Linked DNA regions of Homo sapiens. The protein of the gene in region 1 interacts with the protein of each later gene in a pairwise test. Each region holds a gene or a part of one and is shown in the gene's direction. Other genes may lie near its edges.

Region 1 (5,702 bases):
TGTCCCAGGGCGAGGGCCTCAACCTGGGCATCAGCAAGGAGGAGGTGCGCGTGCACATCGGCCGCGGCGAGTGCCTGGTGAAGACGCTCACGCGCACCCACCTGTACTGCGAGCCGCCTGCGCACGCCCCGCAGCCTGCCAATGGCTCCGGCCTGCCACAGTTCGTGGTGAGTCCGTGCCCTGGGTGGGCAGGTGGACCGGGTGCCGCCAGCATGCACTCAGGAACCCTGCCCGCCCCCCAGGTGCAGATGGGCAATGTGCAGCTGGCCCTGGGCCCTGTGCAGTACGAGGCTGAACCCCCGCTGTCTGCCTTTCCCGTGGAGGCCCAGGCAGGCGTGGGCATGGGTGCTGCAGTGCTGATTGCCGCCGTGCTCCTCCTCACCCTCATGTACAGGTGAGACCCGCCCACCCCCAGCACACTTCCCTCCTCGCCATTGGCAAGGGCGCCCTGGCAGGCGGCTGGCCTGGCCCCGGCCCTGGCTGATGCTGGCCCCGGCCCTGGCTGATGAAGCTGGCCCCGGGCTGCAGGCACAAGAGCAAGCAGGCCCTGCGGGACTACCAGAAGGTGCTAGTGCAGCTGGAGAGCCTGGAGACCGGCGTGGGAGACCAGTGCCGCAAGGAGTTCACAGGTGGGTGCGGAGGCGGGGGGACAGGGTACCCACGAGGCCTGAACTCACACCTCGGCGCCTCCTGGCCCCGCAGACCTCATGACGGAGATGACCGACCTCAGCAGCGACCTGGAGGGCAGCGGGATCCCCTTCCTGGACTACCGCACCTACGCCGAGCGCGCCTTCTTCCCTGGCCATGGCGGTTGCCCGCTGCAGCCCAAGCCTGAGGGGCCAGGGGAGGACGGCCACTGTGCCACTGTGCGCCAGGGCCTCACGCAGCTCTCCAACCTGCTCAACAGCAAGCTCTTCCTCCTCACGGTGAGGGCCGTGTGGCGGGAGTGCCCAGTGGGCAAGGAGGTGGGGCTGGGGAACTACTGGCCTGAGACAAAGGTGGGGGAGGAGTGGGGCTTCCCAGGATGAGCCTCCGACCCCTGCTCAGCTCATCCACACCCTGGAGGAGCAGCCCAGCTTTTCCCAGAGGGATCGCTGCCATGTGGCTTCGCTGCTGTCGCTAGCGCTACACGGCAAGCTGGAGTACCTGACGGACATCATGAGGACCCTGCTGGGTGACCTGGCGGCCCATTACGTGCACAGGAACCCCAAGCTCATGCTACGCAGGTTGGCCTTGACCTGGACCCGGTGGCGGGGGTGAGGGCTTGCCACAGACCTGCCCCCATCGCACCCTGGGCGGGCTCTGTCCAGGGGCGGGTGGGGCCAGGAAGCCCCAGCAGGTGGGGGGAAGGAAAGTGAGATGTCCTCAGCAGGGACACAGGCACAAAGGCCTGACCCTGTGGCCGGCTCCCCGCAGGACAGAGACCATGGTGGAGAAACTGCTCACCAACTGGCTGTCCATCTGCCTGTACGCCTTCCTGAGGGTGAGGGGCACTGTCCCGCCTGCTCCCAGCCCTGAGTGGCAGACTCCTCCCCTCTTGCCATGAGGGGGCTACTGCCTGCGCCCTACGTGACGAAGGCCCGGCAAGGGGGGCTTTGGAAAGGGAAGGACTTTGAACCCTCTCCGGGGCTGGAGACGAGGCAGAGGCGAGAAGGGCTATCATCAATCCTCCCTCGCTTGGCTGATGCCGGCTCATCTTGGCAGTGCAGGAGGTGGCTGGTGAACCACTGTACATGCTCTTCCGGGCCATCCAGTACCAGGTGGACAAAGGCCCCGTGGACGCCGTGACAGGCAAGGCCAAACGGACCCTGAATGATAGCCGCTTGCTGCGGGAGGACGTGGAGTTCCAGCCCCTGACGCTGATGGTGCTGGTGGGGCCCGGGGCTGGCGGGGCCGCAGGCAGCAGCGAGATGCAGCGCGTGCCAGCCCGGGTGCTCGACACGGACACCATCACCCAGGTCAAGGAGAAGGTGTTGGACCAAGTCTACAAGGGCACCCCCTTCTCCCAGAGGCCCTCAGTGCATGCCCTAGACCTTGGTGAGAGAGCCAGCCCTGCCCACCCACCCCAGGGACCCTTCCCTACCCCTCCGGCACCTGGAGCCCCTCAACTGTGTCTTACTATGAGTGTGGGGCGTGGAGAGCAGGCTGTAGACTATCTGCTTCCCTGACTCCCTCCAGAGTGGCGCTCAGGCCTGGCTGGTCACCTGACCCTATCGGACGAAGACTTGACCTCCGTGACCCAAAACCACTGGAAGAGACTCAACACCTTGCAACACTACAAGGTGTGAGCAGGGACGGGGCGAGGCAGGGCGGGGCTGGGGCGGGGCAGGGCGAGGCAGGGCAGGGCGGGGCTGGGGCGGGGCGAGGCAGGGCGGGGCTGGGGCGGGGCGAGGCAGGGCGGGGCTGGGGCGAGGCGGGGCAGGGCGGGGCTGGGGTGGGGAGGGGCGAGGCAGAGCAGGGCAGGGCTGGGGCGGGGCGAGGCACGGCAGGGCGAGGATGGGGCGGGGCGAGGCAGGGCGGGGCTGGGGCGGGGATGGGGGGCGGGGCGGGGCGAGGCAAGGCAGGGAAGGGCAGGGATGGGGTGGGGCAGGGTGAGGCGAGGCAGGGCAGGGCGGGTCTGGGGCGGGGAAGGGCGAGGCAGGGCAGGATGTGGGCGGTGTAGGCGCCTGGCTAGGGGTCAGCACAGCCTCCGCTCCCCATCTCTGCCAGGTCCCAGATGGAGCAACAGTGGGGCTCGTCCCTCAGCTGCACCGTGGCAGCACCATCTCCCAGAGCCTGGCCCAGAGGTGCCCCTTGGGAGAGAGTGAGTCCCTCGGCCCTGACCTGGGGCCACTGGAGTCCAGGCTGGGCAGGCAGAACTCCTGGCCATGCATCTGCCTCAACTTCATCCCCCACCCCACCGAGATCTTCTGCCCATCTCCTTCCTTTCTTCCAGTCCCCACACTGCCCCACCTTGTCGGGGGAGTGGACTGGGCATCCCAGGCCAGGGGCAGGGGGTATAGCCCTGAAGCCAGGCTCCTGTGCCCTCAGACATACCCACGCTGGAGGATGGCGAGGAGGGGGGGGTGTGCCTCTGGCACCTGGTGAAAGCCACCGAGGAGCCAGAAGGGGCCAAGGTGCGGTGCAGCAGCCTGCGGGAGCGCGAGCCAGCAAGGGCCAAGGCCATTCCGGAAATCTACCTCACCCGTCTGCTGTCCATGAAGGTTGGTGCGGCCTGGGTGGCTGGGCCTGAGAGGAGGCTCAGCCAGGGACCCCGACCGAGCCAGGGTGTGGGAGGGGCAGGGGCAGCCTCAGCCGTGGATGGCCCCCACACCCTGCCCTCCACACAGCCCTTATCCCCTGCCTCGCAGGGCACGCTGCAGAAGTTTGTGGACGACACCTTCCAGGCCATTCTCAGCGTGAACCGGCCCATCCCCATCGCCGTCAAGTACCTGTTTGACCTTCTGGATGAGCTAGCAGAGAAGCACGGCATCGAGGACCCAGGGACCCTGCACATCTGGAAGACCAACAGGTGCCTTTCCTGCTGCCCCACCCCTGCTGTGCATATGGTCCACTGAGTCCCAGAGAGACCAGGACATTCCCAGGGTGGATGCGCCCACCTGGGGTTTCTGGAACTTACAGGAAGATCTAGGGCCCAGGTCACCTAGGCCACCAGGCCAGCTTCCAGCGGCCCCTGGCTCCGAGTGTGTTGCCAGTAGGCTGGAGTACATGGGGCGGAGATCACGATGGCAGGCCAGGGCCTCACGCCCACGCCTGCCCTGCGCCCCCAGTCTGCTGCTGCGGTTCTGGGTGAATGCCTTGAAGAACCCACAGCTCATCTTTGATGTACGGGTGTCGGACAATGTGGACGCCATCCTTGCTGTCATCGCCCAGACCTTCATTGACTCCTGTACCACCTCGGAGCATAAAGTGGGCCGGGTGAGAGCAGTGCCAGCAGCAGCAGCTGGCAGGGGCTTGAGGAGGAAAGGCTTATGGGGGAAGCCTAGAGGGCTGTGCACAGAGCTCTGGGTGGGCAGTGGCAGCATCATGGGGGCACCTTCACCTCCGAGCTCATGCCTAGCGCCTCCCCTCCCTCCGGAGCAGGATTCCCCAGTGAACAAACTGCTCTACGCCCGGGAGATCCCACGCTACAAGCAGATGGTGGAGAGGTGGGTGTCAGAGGCATCGGGGCTGCGGGGAAGGGGGCTGCCCCACCCCTAACGAAGTCTGCTCCTCCAGGTACTATGCGGACATTCGCCAGAGCTCTCCGGCGAGCTACCAGGAGATGAACTCTGCTTTGGCTGAGCTCTCCGGGGTGAGGCATGGCCCGGGGGGTGCGCCTGTCCACACGTGGGTGGAAAGACTAGCAGAGCAGAGGGGGGAGACTTGGGGCTTGAGGACCAGGCTGGGACCTCACTGCCCCCCTCCACGTGGTGCCCCCAGAACTACACTTCTGCTCCCCACTGTCTGGAGGCTCTGCAAGAACTCTACAACCACATCCACAGGTACTATGATCAGGTGAGGCCCAGGGCACTCCGGAGGGGAGGCACAGTGGAGCGGGAGGCCCGTGGACCCTCCCGGGGGAGCAGGGGTGCCAGCCCATGCTGGCGGGGCCCAGGCTGGGGAAGGGACTCGGCTTTCATTCTGATTCCCCAGGGAGACGCCAGGCAGCCCCTGCTGGATCCCCAGGCTCCTGCGGTGATGGAAGCAGGGTGGGTGGCCCTGGGCCAGCAGGCAGAGGGGCAGGCTCAGACAGGCACCCTCCTCTGCCCGGGCAGATTATCAGTGCCCTGGAGGAGGACCCTGTGGGCCAGAAGCTGCAGCTGGCCTGCCGCCTGCAGCAGGTCGCCGCCCTGGTGGAAAACAAAGTGACTGACCTGTGAGCTCTGGCTCAGACAGCAGCAAGCCGGATCCACCAACACCGCAGCGCCTTATGACCCCGGAACCGAGCCAGCCACTGAGGGGAGCTGGCAGAGCCTGGGGGCACAGGGTGCAAAGCCAGGCACTGTGCCCAGCAGTGGGCTCCCTGCCTGCCACCTCCCCTGCCAGCCCACCCACCTTCCCCCCACCTGAGATTGTTTCTAATTTATAAGGATCCCCCTCCTTCCCCCTCTCCCCATTGTATTTATTTGCCTGCTGGAAAATCACATCCGGAAATAAAATAGAAATATGTCTTTTTATTTTATTTTGAGACGGAGTCTCGCTCTCTCTCCCAGGCTGGAGTGCAGTGGCGCAATCTCGGCTCACTGCAACCTCTTTTTCCCGGAGTTCAAGCAATTCTCCTGCCTCAGCCTCCCGAGTAGCTGGGACTACAGGCGTGTGCCACCACACCCGACTAATTTTGGTATTTTTAGTAAAGACAGGGTTTCCCCATGTCGGACAGGCTGGTCTCAAAACTCCTGACTTCAGGTGATCTGCCCGCCTCAGCCTCCCAAAGTGCTGGGATCACAGGCATGAGCCACCGCGCCTGGCCAGAAATGTCTTTTGACAAAGGGCCCAATCCCCAGCCCCTGCTGTTCCCTGCAGGAGCTGACTCAGTGCTCTCCTGACTGAGAGTCCCTCAGCCCCATGCCTATAACCTGCTACCCACAGACAAAGAGAGGCCATCAGGTACCCGGGCTTCACTTTCCCTCCCACTCTCTGACCTCGCTGGCCCCTCCAGCAATGCCTGGCCCACCCCTACCAGTTCACGGACCCTGGTACAGGGACACTGCACCAATATC
Region 2 (7,000 bases), on another chromosome or scaffold:
CTGAAGTGAATGACCATTTAGCAAACAAAGTAAATTTTCCAGCAATGTAGTAATGAAAATATATGCTTAGCTTTCAAAAGAAATGTATCTTCTTATTTTTATGGAGAAAAAATTTGATAAAATTATAAGTATTTTCACAAGGATGATCTCATTTTCACAGTAGCTCTGCAAAAGAGGAAATGTAAGAGATATTTTTATTCCCATTTTATAAAAGAAGAAATTGAGAGATGGGGAGATCAAGTGACTCTTCCAATTCTCCGTCTTAAGTAGGCCAACAGGTTAGAGCCAGAGCCAGTCTTCCTGATGATGTCCCTTTCTGTGCTCTTAAACCCAATCTGTCTGAGGACTTGGCATGGCACCGTCAGATGACATATACCAGGTGTCTTATATTTTTATTTCACGACATGTAAATGACATTCATACAGCACAGTCTATTAATATTCTATCCAATAAGTTCTATCTGAACAAGCAAATGTTTGCTGACATCCCCGTCTATAAGAGTTTTGGGCATGACTTATTATCTAGACATCTATATATTTTTTTAAAGTGGGCAGTTGAGTACCATCAAGTTGTTATATAGTTTTATCCTGTGATAACTGACCACTCATCTTTTACATTCAGAAATCTTCTACGTATCTTCATAAAGATATTGTTGCAGTGTTCTTTATCCTTGCCTGATGACTTGAAAAATTGCTGTTAGTGGAAAATATCCATAAATTGTAAAAGGCAGTCTTACTAAGAAACACAAATAGTTCTCACTCTGTTTCTAAATAGCAAGATCACATTAAAACTCAAAAATAGGTAACATTAATCACTACAATTCAAACTACTACTCTCTAGACCTGGCAGGGAAACTTGAGAGCTTTCAACATAACCCTTAGTTCTTTCCCGTGAAATTCTGGCAGAGCAGAGGGAAGGAGAGAGCGTGCTTGGGGACTGGGGAGTCTGTTAACAGTGATTAAAGTTAGGGAGAGCCTTAGAGGAAGTGGCATTTGTTACCTCTCTGACTTTTACTTGGCCATTCAGAAACCCATTGTTTCCACAATCATACTCAAGTCATCCTTGACTGTAACTGTGGTGGGAATATCTGGGTAGAACTGTCCTGATTTTATAGAAGAATATAACAAAGGACAAAGAGTAATTACTGAAATAGCAATCATCTTTTGCATAACAATTTACAGCTTAGAAACCCTTTCACCTGTATGATCTCATTCGTTATTTCCCATGGAACAATAAGTTGCTATTACTATTGTTCATCATTACTTCTAAAAAATCTGAGTCACAGAGGATTGAAGCCAGTTTGGGAAAGTTATACAGCTAATAAGTGATGAAACTAGAACTCAGACCAAAGTCTTTTGACCTCATATCCCATGTGATCTCTACTATACCTTGCAGCCTCCTGAACCTAAGAAGAATGTTGGAGCAAGAATGAAAGTAGACATAAAAAATAGTCAATGAGTTAAAAAAAACTCACTGAATAGGAAATTGAGGAAATGAGGCATACCCAAGAGAAAATCCAAAAGGCCAATAAACATGAAAAGATGCTCACCTTCACTGGCAGTCTGGGAAATGCAAATCAAAACTATGATCACATCCATTAGATTGGTAAAAATTAAGTCTGAGAATACGAAGTACTGTGTCAGATGTAAAGCAATGAAAATTTCAACACACTACCGATCAGAGTGTAAATCAATGTGACCTCTTTTGTCAGCCATTTGCCACTATCTAACAAAGTTGAAGATGCACATGGTCTGTGCCAGCATGGGGTTCATAGCAGAGTTATTTTCAATAGCCACAGATTTGTCATAACTCCGGTGTCCATTAACAAAAGAATGGATGAATGTTATTAAGTAGTAATATAGCCATCACTAAATACTGTATTACAATGAAAACTAATCAACTAGAGGCACAAGTATCAAAATAGATAAATATCACAAACATATTTTAAGAAAAGTTACAGAATATTAAAATATATACCATTTACAAAAGGCTTAAAATATGTAAAATACTTTCCAGGGATTATTATTATTTAGAGATTAGATACTATTTAGAGATATTGTTTTTACGGACACCTAGATATGATATAAATTATAAAGGTATATGTAAATAACAAACCTCAAATAGGGCAATGGTTACCTTGGAAAGGGCTGTAAAGGAGTGCAAGTTGGGGGAGAGGTGCTAGCCAAGGGGGATTCAACTAATATGAGCAATGTTCCAATCATTAAGTTGGATGTTAGTATACAAGTATTTGTTGTTCTTTCAACCTTTTAAATGTAGAAAATATAACATTAAAACTAAAAGAAACAGGAGAGAAAAATAGTCTATCTGAATCAGACACTTCTCTGGGACACTGAGATGAATGGAATCAATTAAAAACGATTCCCAAAGCATCCCCAGCTGCCACAGTCTGAAGAGGAATTATAATAACAGTGAGGGAATGTCCACTCCAATTCAGTTCTGAGCCGTGGACCCACGTTCCAGCCACCACATCAGTACCCTCTCTGATAGACATTATGGAAAAGTGAAGTTCCATCTGACCAATCACATAGGTTGTGACATTTTCTAGAGGCAGACCTAACCTGGATCCCTGAAAATGTCTGCTTGGCCTCTCTGTCAATTTGGGAAGAGGGACTGTTAATTAAGACAATGCTGTTAATTGTTTTATTCATTTTATGTTATACACCTACAAAAGACCAGAAAAGTTGTCAACTCTAAAAGTTCAACTCTGTTTTTCATTTTTAACGTTTGCAAGCTTGCTGGGCAAGGATGTCTCAGAATGAAATCCCTAGCCATTTGTACCTCCCATTCCAGAATTATTCTGATAAACTGATGTCTGTTGAGTTGCTTATTTCAAGATCTGTGAAAACATGTCTCTTCATCCCTAATATACTCCTCAGCATAGTCAGGCACAATCTCAATTTGCAAGCTCAATTTTCAAGTATTATGGTTTGTGAAGATAAAAATACCAATCCATGATAAAATAGTTCTCCAAAAATAAAATTGTTATTCATACATAATTGAAATTTTTAAAAAAACATTTATCTCAAACAGCCATGATTTTCTGCATTTTAAGCAGGAAAAAATATTTCTCTGAATATATTTTATAATGGATAATTTGCATTCAGAGCATTTCTAATCATAAAGTTAGCCTCTAACCAGTAGACCTCTGAAAATCTGTGATAGTTCACTGGGGAGAAAGGACAAGTGCCTTTATTGAAACTGATCCACAGAAATATTAGTTTATCTAAGATCAGAGGATGAACTGTGGCAACTTTCTGTTTGAAACCAAGGGACCCAAATCTCCTCCATCCTATTTTAACAACAATCATATTAATAATAGTCCACATTTATTGAGCACTGTGTGTCATACACTATGCCAAGTACTTTTCCTACATTATGTCATTTCATTCTCACAACTTTACAAATGAGGAACTGTGGCTCAAAGCAGGGAACTTGGTCAATATCATGTATCTGTTAAATAGTAGAGCCAAGGTGTCAACCCAGCTCCCTAATCCCAAAACCTGCACCCTTGACCTTTGCTCGCATATACATGGAAGCTTTGTAATTACCTGCTATAGATGGAAAAAAATAAATGGGCAAATATTTTTCTGTTCCATAAAAAAGAAAAAAGGCAATTGACTTATTCAACTTATACAAAAAAAAATATGCTAGGGCTTTGTTTTTCGTCTAAAACTCATGACCACTACTTCTCAATAGTTCGAAAATTATATTAACTGAATTACACTGAAGATGGAATATAAGATGAAAAAGAAGCATAGAGAATGTGCTTCTTCAAGGTACACATTCCTCTAACCTTTTCTTTCAGAGCCTTTGTTTCTGAATATGAAGTTGTTTCTGAACTTCAAGAATAACCAAATAGCTTTTTTTCAGCACTTCATCATTGTATTTGCTGGCAGTCCTGTTGTAACCTTGAGTCACCCACAGTGATTTTAAGTATTATTCTAATTGATTTCTCACTGCTTACTAAGAAACAACACCTCTCACTAGTCTCGTAAATAATTCCATTTCTCTATGTCAATGTTAATTGAACTTACCTCATGTTGTCAATCTCTTTTTTTCTTACAGGTGATGTCATTGTCTATATTAATGAAGTTTGTGTCCTTGGACACACTCATGCAGATGTTGTCAAACTTTTCCAGTCTGTTCCTATTGGTCAGAGTGTCAACCTGGTGTTGTGTCGTGGCTACCCTTTGCCCTTTGATCCTGAAGACCCTGCTAACAGCATGGTGCCACCCCTTGCAATAATGGAGAGGCCACCTCCAGTGATGGTCAATGGAAGACACAACTATGAAACATATTTGGAGTACATTTCTCGGACCTCACAGTCAGTTCCAGATATAACAGATCGGCCGCCTCATTCTCTGCACTCCATGCCAACTGATGGTCAGCTAGACGGCACGTATCCACCGCCCGTCCATGATGACAATGTGTCTATGGCTTCATCTGGGGCCACCCAAGCTGAACTTATGACCTTAACCATTGTGAAAGGTGCCCAGGGCTTCGGCTTCACTATTGCCGACAGTCCTACAGGACAGCGGGTGAAACAAATACTTGACATTCAGGGATGCCCTGGCCTGTGTGAAGGCGACCTCATTGTTGAGATCAACCAGCAGAATGTACAGAACCTGAGCCATACAGAAGTAGTGGATATACTTAAGGACTGTCCCATTGGAAGTGAAACTTCTTTGATTATCCATCGAGGAGGTAAGACAAACACTGGCTCAGCAATAAAATATGTGGGTAAAATAGTAGGATCATTTAATAATATTGTTAAAATGCAGATTTCCTTGGAGTTGAATGAAATTATACTTTAAAAAATAAAGCTTAAAGAGTGAGAGAGAAAAACATGAATTAAAGGAAACTTTGTTTTTGAATTCAGAATATGTCTTTTTCTATTTTGTATTAAACACAATAATAATAGTTCTTTCAGTCTTACAGACATATTGATAGAAAGTTGGAGGGTAAAGATTAAATCCCCAACTATGAATGTATTTTGTTTCAAAAATTCATTCATGTATCGGTCATGGAGAACTCAAACTGGTTTCCCATTGATTTAATTAAGAAACCTGCTTTTACGATGGAAGCAACGCTTTTAATCGTGCTTAGGTTTCCAGGCTAGCAGGTGGAAGCCAGTTCAACCCCTACTAAGCCCAAGCACAGTCTTGACAATACTCAGAAGGACCATGAACTGTGAGAGCTGTGGGAGCTGTGCTGCTGTAGAAAAATCTTTTCACAGTTTGGAATGATGCTGTTCAGGACACTTCTGCTACTACAGGAACTGCACTAGCAACAATTACCCATAGTGCCTCCCATGATCTGGGAAGAAAGTTACAGAACAGGGTGAGGGCTGAAGTTCTGGCCTGAGTGTCCCGGGCAAAGTATGGAAATAGGAACAGTGCCAAGTGTGGTAGAAGCTCTGAGCCCTGAATGTTTCTTCCCCTCTACCTTTTCTGTGGGGAAGGGAATGGGGTAAAGCACAGGGCCCCTTCTCCACACCTCTGCTGCTTTGCTCTGGATGACCAGTGAACCTAGAGAGAGAAGGGAGGGAAGGGGCCATAGATAAAGAGGATACTATCTCGAAAAAAGAGTGTAAAGGAAAAGGATCAGGCTAAGCCCTGGTTTTCCCATTTGCCAATTTGTGGACTTAGGACACTGAAAGTCAATGAGCCTCAGCCATGTCATCTGTTACAATGGGATAATACTACTACCTAACCCAGTGGTAGTGTTGTAGCCCAACATCTGCTCACTAAATGTCTGGCGAGTGTAAACATCGAAGCTTCAGCATGGGTGGGTCAGAAGGAACAGGACAATGAGGAACTCATGCATGAAGGACACACGTGTGACAAACATGTGGTTGCCTATTCAAAGCACTCAAAACAGCCTGAAACTCTCAGTTTGAAATGCAAGTGAAGGCTGTCAAAGCTGAAAGAAAGAAGCACCTTTTATGATTTATTTGGCCCTGTCTGCAGGTGTTTTTCCTTCAAGGAAGTATCACATTGTTGATTCCTTGTTTGGAAACGGACAGCAAACACCAGGCATTTGTGAGCAGCACTCTACAAAGTCTTAGGTTCCCGGTACTAAAAGGGAAATTCATATGATAGCCAAACAATCTTAAATTTGACCTTCTCAAGGCATTGTTACAAAATAGCACTTGAATTCTCATAATTAAATGTTGGCAAGGTATTTTAATTTCTTGCATTGCTTAAGATTAAAATAAACATTGCTAATTAAATAGCCATATCTTCATAGTGTCCAAATGAAAATCAAATATTTGGACCAAGTTCTTGATATTAAATGGTATCACAAACTCACTGTGCAGTATCCACTGTATGATTCATAGAAACAAATTTGGATGCATTTTTTATATACAGCTTCTTCTAAAAGCATGACATAGCAGAAAAAAGGTACTTTGAAATCCCTAATTTACATTATGGTAATTTGTACTTTTCTGAAAATATTCGTTGTGTGCCTGCTATCAGCTTGGCTACCCCATTCTCACTTTTCCTTTGCCCCCCATTTACTCCACAAGTAATCAAAGTGGTCTTTGCATTTGGTTTGTGTTTGGGGATGAGGGAATTGGTTTTTGTTTTTTGCCTAGCATAGCAAAATGCAGAATGCTGTGATGCTTAAAGTACTTCTAGTCGAAAACCTCTTGAGTTTACCCTAATTCCCACAATTTATACTCATCTCTCTGAAATTAATAGGAACTAGCACCATGCTTATGTGGTGAAATTCACTTTATCTTATTATGGGCTACCAGAAGTGCCTATGACCTCTTTGAGATAAGCAGACTCAAGAGCTGAGTCGCAGGCCTGGGTCCTTATATCAGGACCATGGGTGGTCGGCTGTTTTTAATTATTTACTAGAGTTTTTAATTTATAAAGTAATAATGTACATGGTTTAACTTTTTTAAAGCAAATAATGTCAACAAGTATAAAATGAAAGTAATTGTCTGTCCTATCCCAGACTTTCAGTCCTT
Region 3 (6,971 bases), on another chromosome or scaffold:
TAACGATAGCTAATGAGCTTTTAAAAAATCTCATAATGTTTTAAGAAAGTTTATGAATTTGTGTTGGGCTGCATTCCAAGTTGTCCTCGGCCACATGTGGCCTGCAGGCCCCAGGTTGGACAAGGTTGTTTTAAGGTAACGCTCCCTAAGATTTATCCTGATTTTCCTGCCCAGCACTCTATAGCTTACAGAGCCCAGGCTTGTTCATATTAAATCCTTACAAACTGCAGATGGCAGTTCACAAAGTTATCTAGTTCTCCGGACTCCTAGTCTAGTCTAGCTCTTTCCATTGATCACCAGCTGCCTCCAGATTCCTACAACCCAGTCTGTCTAGGACACAATCTAATCTATTTTGTTTTTTAACCTGAGACTTGCAGTTTACTTAAATGGCCAACTAACTTCAGGGAACTCTATCTTACTAAAGCCACCCTCATAATCTTCAAAGTGGAGTGTTCAAGGAGATGCTTGAGGAAAATACTTAAGAATGCACTCATGGCCGAGGCGGGTGGATCACGAGGTCAGGAGATCGAGACCATCATGGCTAACACAGTGAAACCCCATCTCTACTAAAAATACAAAAAATTAGCCGGGCGTGGTGGCGGGCGCCTGTAGTCCCAGCTACTCGGGAGGCTGAGGCAAGAGAATGGTGTGAACCTGGGAGGCGGAGCTTGCAGTGAGCCAAGATTGTGCCACTGCACTCCAGTCTCGGCGACAGAGCGAGACTCCGTCTCAAAAAAAAAAAAAAAAAAAAAAAAAGAATGCACTCATAATAGTATTTAATTATAGCAAAAATAATTAGGTTTTACTAACACTAATGACATGGCATTCTCACTCAGTCACTATGTCAGAAGTCATCTGTCACACACAGTATATGAGGAGGTTCCAAGAACCAGAGGTAACATCACCATTGACGTTCATTTTCTTCATGATGTACGCCACCCACCAGACAAAAACAAGCCTGTTAACTGCTACAAACTTTACAATTCTTTGTAATGACAGAGAATGACCATGAAAATCTTTGCTGTGCAGATTAACAATCTCCTGGGGAAAGCCTAAAATGAAATACTGAACATGGAGGAGATGCACAGTTTTATTTCAGTGTTCTATGATGAGAAATGGCTGTCAAGAGTATGCTACCTAGCACTTACTTGCAAAAACAAAAACAAACAACAAAAACACCGCTTAATCTGTCCCTTCAAGCTGTCCCTTCAAGGTTAAGATGACAGTCTATCTACGAGCGAGGAAGTCACTGCTTTTCTAAAGAAACACATACTTTAGGAAAAAGTATTTTGAAGACGGATGACTGGAAATGGTTCCAATATTGTGATTTTTTTAATTACCAAAAACAATGGTTTCACCTATCAAAACCTTTGCACACTGAAAAATTAGGAAACAGAATTTGAAAACCTATTTTTTAAAGTTAAATGAAATTTCTTAATGGCTGGAACCCATTTGTTAAGAATATAAAAATGTAACACCTTCCAATCATTCAAGAAGGATTGACTTAAGATATAAATTTACTAGTTGAATTTCAATTAGAAGTCTTTGCATTGTTGATGAATGGGATTGGAAAATAAGTATCATGATTTAATAAATGCAATCAAGGGCATACTTCTTCTGTTTGAATCTACCTATCTTTGGCAAGCATCTTTTCCAGTTATGACAGCAATTAACTTTCACCAAAAAGCATGATTTAAAAAATGTTCATTTTTAAATTTCAACCTTTTAATATTTCTACACTAGGCAATGTTGTATAAGATATGTAATAAAATATATGTAAATACTTGCTTTAAAAATATTACATATATTAAGAACACATTATCATTATTATTATCATTTTGAGATGGAGTTTCACTCGTCACCCAGGCTGGTGTGCAGTGGCGCAATCTTGGCTGATTGCAACCTCTGCCTCCCGGGTTCAAGCGATTCTCCTGCCTCAACCTCCGGAGTAGCTAGGATTACAGGCGCTCCCCACCATACCCAGCTAATTTTTTGTATTTTTAGTAGAGACGGGGTTTCACCATGTTGGCCAGGCTGGTCTCGAACTTCTGACTTGAGGTGATCCACTCGCCTCGGTCTCCCAAAGTGCTGGGATTACAGGCGTGAGCCACCGCACCTGGCCAAGAAAACATTATTTTAAAATGTGTGGCAACCAGTGGTCTGTCACCACAGAGCAGTGTCCACATTTGAGAGCATCATTTTTGCGGGTAGTATGGGAAAGAAAGACACAATTAAGTCAGCAACAATCTAGACTGTGCTTCAAATGCTGGGCAGATCACCTGTTTTGGGGAGTTCTGGCCTAGGGGTTGGTGGAGACAGGGTGAAGGAAGCAGGTTCTTTTATTTGCCAACCTATACCTGATATACATTAAAGGGAAAGTTCCTGGTTCATAGTAGGTCTTCAACTGATGCTTATTCGTTTCTTTTTCCTCTTGCAATTTGCATATCTACCACTTCTAACACTGGTGAGGTCACTCCAGAGCTCACGAATGTGTATAGATAATTTACATATACATATCCACCCCCTCCCAGAACAATCCAGGTAGTGTGAAAGGAGAGAACTTATGCAAACACCCCACTGCCTGCAGAGTATTTTACAATGGCATTTACCTAGGCAAGAAGGCAAAGTCCACTCCCCAATCCTAGTGAGAGTTTTTTTATTTTAATAATTTTTTAAAAAAAATTTTATTATTATTAGTTTTTTGAGACGGAGTCTCGCTCTGTTGCCCAGACTGGAGTGCAGTGGCGCAATCTCGGCTCACTGCAAGCTCCGCCTCCCGGGTTCAAGCGATTCTCGTGCCCTAGCCTACCGAGTAGCTGGGATTACAGGCACGCGCCACCACGTACGGCTAGTTTTGTATTTTTAGTAGAGGGGGGGGGTTTCACCATGTTGGCCCAGGATGGTCTCGAACTCCTGACCTCAGGCCCCGCCTCGGCCTTAATGATTTTTAATCATAACGCTCGGCACCTTCTGACAAATGTCACGTTACTTGTAAAGATTTAGAAACTGTGATTCTATGAGAGGGGGTTATGAAAATAGAATTGCTCTGGAAAGGCTCTTCCATAGAGTTCAAAGACACTTCACACAGCCTGCTATTAAGATGCCCAACCCAACCCGAGAGGAAACAGCGAAGGGTCTTCCCCCTAAGTCGGTGGTATTAGAAGTGGGAAGGACCACAGAAACGGGAGGAAACAGTTAAAAGAACTGACACCACGAAGGAGGCCGCAACAAATGTTTGAAAAATAAGATCAGAAGAGAGGTGGAGAGAGGGTGAGCCGCAGCTGCGGGCGCCGGGGTAATGCCGGTGGACGCAAAGAGGTAAACCTGCACCCGTGGGCAGGGGCACGGGGCGCGGGCACGGTGGCTGGGCGGGCAGGGGGTAGGAAACAAAGGTCGGCTCCCGAGCAGAAGTCAATAAAAGGGGGAAAAGCAGCCGAGGAAAAGCGGCGAAAAGGCGGCAGGGGTGGCGGTGGCGGTGGCGGCGGCGGGGACGGCGCGCGGTGCCTGGCGGGGTCAGGGCCGGGGTCGCCCGCGGGCCGGGCCGGGGATCCGGCTGAGATGGGAACCCGCTAGGCCGCGCCGAGGGGCAGGGCCGGCGACTGAGGGGCCGCAGAGGGGACCGGCCGAGGAGCGACGGCAAAGGGTTGTGGGGGGCAGGGCGCGCAGGGAGGCCGGGACAGGGGCGGGCCGGTCGGCGGGAGTCGCGGCCGCGGGAACCGAGGCAGGGAAAGGCGGTCAGCTTCCCGCCCCCGCCCCCGGCCGCCGCGGCGTGAGGGGAAAGGCCGGCGGGCGGCGGGCAGCGCAGCGAGGAGGAGGAGCCTGCGGCCCCGCCCCGCGGGAGCGAGGGAAGGAGAAAGGCTCGCAGGGAAGGAGGGAGGGAAGGGGGGCGGCCGGCCGGGCCTGCGCCCGAGCGAGCGGCGAACCGAGGGGGAAGGGGCCCGGAAGGAGGCGAGCGCGGCCGCGACGCCGGCAGTCGGACGCCCGCTCGTGCCGGCCTGCCGCAGCCGCCGCAGCCTTCCCTGTGCGCCGAGCCTGGCGTCCCGAGCGGCCGCGAAGGCCGGAACACGGCGGTCGGGCGCGGGGCGAGCGGCGCCGGGAGCCCGAGGCCCGGCCGGGCGTCCTGCGCGAGGCACTGCGGGCTCCTGCCTGCGAGATTAGGCGAGGGGCGGAAAGGGAGGCAAGGAGAGGCCGAGAGGAGACAGGCGATCGGATTTTCCAGGAGTCTGGTGTGGAAGAAAAACCCACCTCGAACTCAAATCCACAATAATAATCCGAACGAATAATAAGGGAGCCGTCTTTCTGGCCGGGCGAGAGAGAGGGAGAGAGAAGGGGGAACGGGAGGAAGCGAAATCTCCGTTTCATGGAGGCTGAGGCAAGAGAAAATTTCGGAGCCTGGATGTGGAGGAGCCCAACAGCAGAACTAACTCAGGAAATTGTCTTTCAGAAAAAGGCCGAACGTAGGCTGGGTCTGAGAATCAGGCTGGGGTAGGTGGAGGAACCTGCAAGTTTAAAGGAAAAAGAAAAGGAGAGAATATTTTCAGAGATTATCTCTGGTTTGTTATCATTACTACCATCTTAAAGGTAAAAAGCATTGCATTTCAGGTGTTCTTTGATTTTTATTTTATTTTTTTTTTTGGTGCAATTGGCTCATTTAAGAATTTCAAAACATTTAATGTAAAAGCTTTTTTTTTTTTAAGGAAGTCCATAAATTTTGGTTCCCAGGGTTGCACTGGACTTGGAAGGAGTGCTGTTGTGTACATACTATTGTATGGTTTTATTTATTATTTTACTGTACAAATCAGCCGAAAGAATTTTTCCAAGTGCCATTTCGGATTTATTAATCCTTTTTTTTTTCCTTTCCTCAAAGATATTTGCTGTTGTCATATTAAGCATTGGAGACTAGAAAATTACTTTCCCCCTTTGAGCTAGAGGGTCTCTTGCCAACAGAAGGACAGCTGAGAAAGCTGGATTTAAAGGATGGTTTTATCTGTACTTTGCAGTTAACAGTGATATTTTGAAGGCACATTTTTCTGTGATTCATTTTTTTTTGGCCATAGTGCTAACCTTGAAGAGATTCGTGGCTGGGTTTTTGGTTTCTGAGAAGGTCGTAGTTTTTCCTCTTTTCCTTTTTTTTTCTTTTTTCTTTTCTTTTCTTTTTTTTTAAAGCGGGGGAGGGGAAGAGGGGCTGAGAAAGGAAATCATGTTCACTGGTAGAAGTAGAGTGGAGCATCAGTTACCAGGGTCCTGAGAGCTGGAGGAGAAAGGATTCTATCTTCAAGTTGGGAGGCCCTCCTCTCACCTTGCTCAAAAATTGCAAGCGATTCAATCCTGATCAAGACACCAAAGCTACAGGATTCTGGAACCGTGGAGACACCGAGAAACCATGAGTGTAAGGTTACCCCAGAGTATAGACAGGTAGGTTTGCTAATAATTTGATTTTTCAACATTGACTAAAGGAAAGACTGGGAGGGGTGGTGTTGCATTTTAATAAATGGTTGAAAATAGGGGTCTGGGTGGGCTATGGGAATTGGTGGGCTAGGAGCATTAGTCTCTGGGGACTGTCAGCCTATGTGGTTATGTGCAAAAACATAGCTCTTGATTCAGCGTCTTTTGAATATAAGCAATAAACAGTGAAGCCAGGAGAGGGAAAGGAGGAGGATGTGCTTCCAGTGGCTTTTGACTTTTGCCAGGGTAGAGGCTGAATTTGAGTCCACCCAACTTGCTAGTCTCAGGTGGGGGCAAGCCAGTCTTGTGAGCTCCTAGGGTTGCACTAGGGGGACTGGCTTTAGGTGTTGGAGCTGCTGGGAGAAGGGCCCTGGCAGAGGCGTGGGCCTCCACCAGGCTGGTTGGTATGGAATGGTGGGGCTTGGTGACGGGGTGGATCCCATTTCTAGAAATGAAGAGGATGTTCTTGGCCTGAATGATGGGACAGAAACATCCTTTGCACCCATGCAAGTCTGGATTTTTACCAGTAGCTGACATGGTCCCAAAATGCATAGATCACATTAGAATTTCCTCTCCTCCAAGCTTAGAGTTTGAATTGAGACCTGCCAACCGGCTGATGCTCTAGGTTTAATCTTCCAAGCTGTTCTTAATAAGCTTGACTCTGCAAAATGGGCCTTCCCTCTGCCTGGAGCCAGAAGAAATTGTTTTGGGCTCGTAGGCCTGCTGGGCAGCAGCACTGGCCCTCAGAGTCTGAACACATGACACCCCTTGCCCCAAGAGTCTGCCCAGCCACCTCTATCACTGGTAATGTTACTGTGTGGTTGCAATTCTTACCTCCAAATGATTGGTACAACTTTGTAAGGTGTCTGCCTTTTCCTTCCCTCCCCTACCCCTCCTCAACGCTTCTCCCCATGAGAACCTTGCTGTGGGGGGTGTGTTTTGTGGGCACTGCACACATCCTAACTGGATAGATGGGTGGTTGAAGGACTGAACAAGCAAATGAAAGGACTGGGCCTGGAAAAAAATATTATTGGAGAGATAGGGAAGAATATTTGCAAGGGAGCAATTGTTCCCTCCATGCCCAGTCCACCTTCGGTTATCCATGCTAATAATAATTTCCTTTTGGTTGTGGAATGTGGCCTAAAATGCATATAATCTCTCTCTCTCAAGCACTAATCTCTGTATTGCCTCAGAGTCCCATTTAGATTAGTTCAGCAGTCCCTAGATGGGAACTGACTTGGCAGTGGAGAAGAGGAGGCAGACAGCCACAAAGGATGTACGGCCAGTTCAGACCTCCTTCCTCCTTTCTGTTGGCCTCTCTGCAGTTTGACCCTTGGAAAGGGAGAACTGAGGTGTGTCAAGGTGAGGAATTGGAATGGTTTACATGGCTGCCCTTCTTCCCTTTTCATCCTCTTGGAGTTTGAGAATTAGTGCACTTGCCTTTTTAAGATTTGGATGGTGAACTCTTTCTGGTAAATGCAAGGATTTGAGAAGATGGGAACCCAAGTTTTGGGGGCGTGCAAGAA

What was found. The genes of interacting proteins can lie anywhere in the genome.
Region 2: the proteins of PLXNB3 (region 1) and MAGI2 interact in a two-hybrid assay, tested with the Homo sapiens proteins (one study listed by BioGRID and IntAct).
Region 3: the proteins of PLXNB3 (region 1) and ARHGEF11 interact in a two-hybrid assay, tested with the Homo sapiens proteins (2 studies listed by BioGRID and IntAct).

Annotation. Positions count from the first base shown.
Region 1 is NC_000023.11:153,774,178-153,779,879, forward strand, and holds the end of PLXNB3 (plexin-B3 isoform 1 precursor), read left to right. Parts: intron 1-8; coding exon 9-167; intron 168-242; coding exon 243-394; intron 395-528; coding exon 529-629; intron 630-702; coding exon 703-926; intron 927-1,047; coding exon 1,048-1,226; intron 1,227-1,416; coding exon 1,417-1,483; intron 1,484-1,709; coding exon 1,710-2,037; intron 2,038-2,178; coding exon 2,179-2,282; intron 2,283-2,709; coding exon 2,710-2,803; intron 2,804-3,030; coding exon 3,031-3,203; intron 3,204-3,350; coding exon 3,351-3,511; intron 3,512-3,770; coding exon 3,771-3,918; intron 3,919-4,083; coding exon 4,084-4,148; intron 4,149-4,218; coding exon 4,219-4,294; intron 4,295-4,422; coding exon 4,423-4,497; intron 4,498-4,757; coding exon 4,758-4,862; 3' UTR 4,863-5,164; downstream 5,165-5,702. UniProt on the Homo sapiens protein: Receptor for SEMA5A that plays a role in axon guidance, invasive growth and cell migration. Stimulates neurite outgrowth and mediates Ca(2+)/Mg(2+)-dependent cell aggregation.
Region 2 is NC_000007.14:78,253,668-78,260,667, reverse strand, and holds part of MAGI2 (membrane-associated guanylate kinase, WW and PDZ domain-containing protein 2), read left to right. Parts: intron 1-4,086; coding exon 4,087-4,725; intron 4,726-7,000. UniProt on the Homo sapiens protein: Seems to act as a scaffold molecule at synaptic junctions by assembling neurotransmitter receptors and cell adhesion proteins. Plays a role in nerve growth factor (NGF)-induced recruitment of RAPGEF2 to late endosomes and neurite outgrowth.
Region 3 is NC_000001.11:157,042,743-157,049,713, reverse strand, and holds the start of ARHGEF11 (rho guanine nucleotide exchange factor 11), read left to right. Parts: upstream 1-3,971; 5' UTR 3,972-5,383; coding exon 5,384-5,415; intron 5,416-6,654; exon of another isoform or gene 6,655-6,807; intron 6,808-6,971. UniProt on the Homo sapiens protein: May play a role in the regulation of RhoA GTPase by guanine nucleotide-binding alpha-12 (GNA12) and alpha-13 (GNA13). Acts as guanine nucleotide exchange factor (GEF) for RhoA GTPase and may act as GTPase-activating protein (GAP) for GNA12 and GNA13.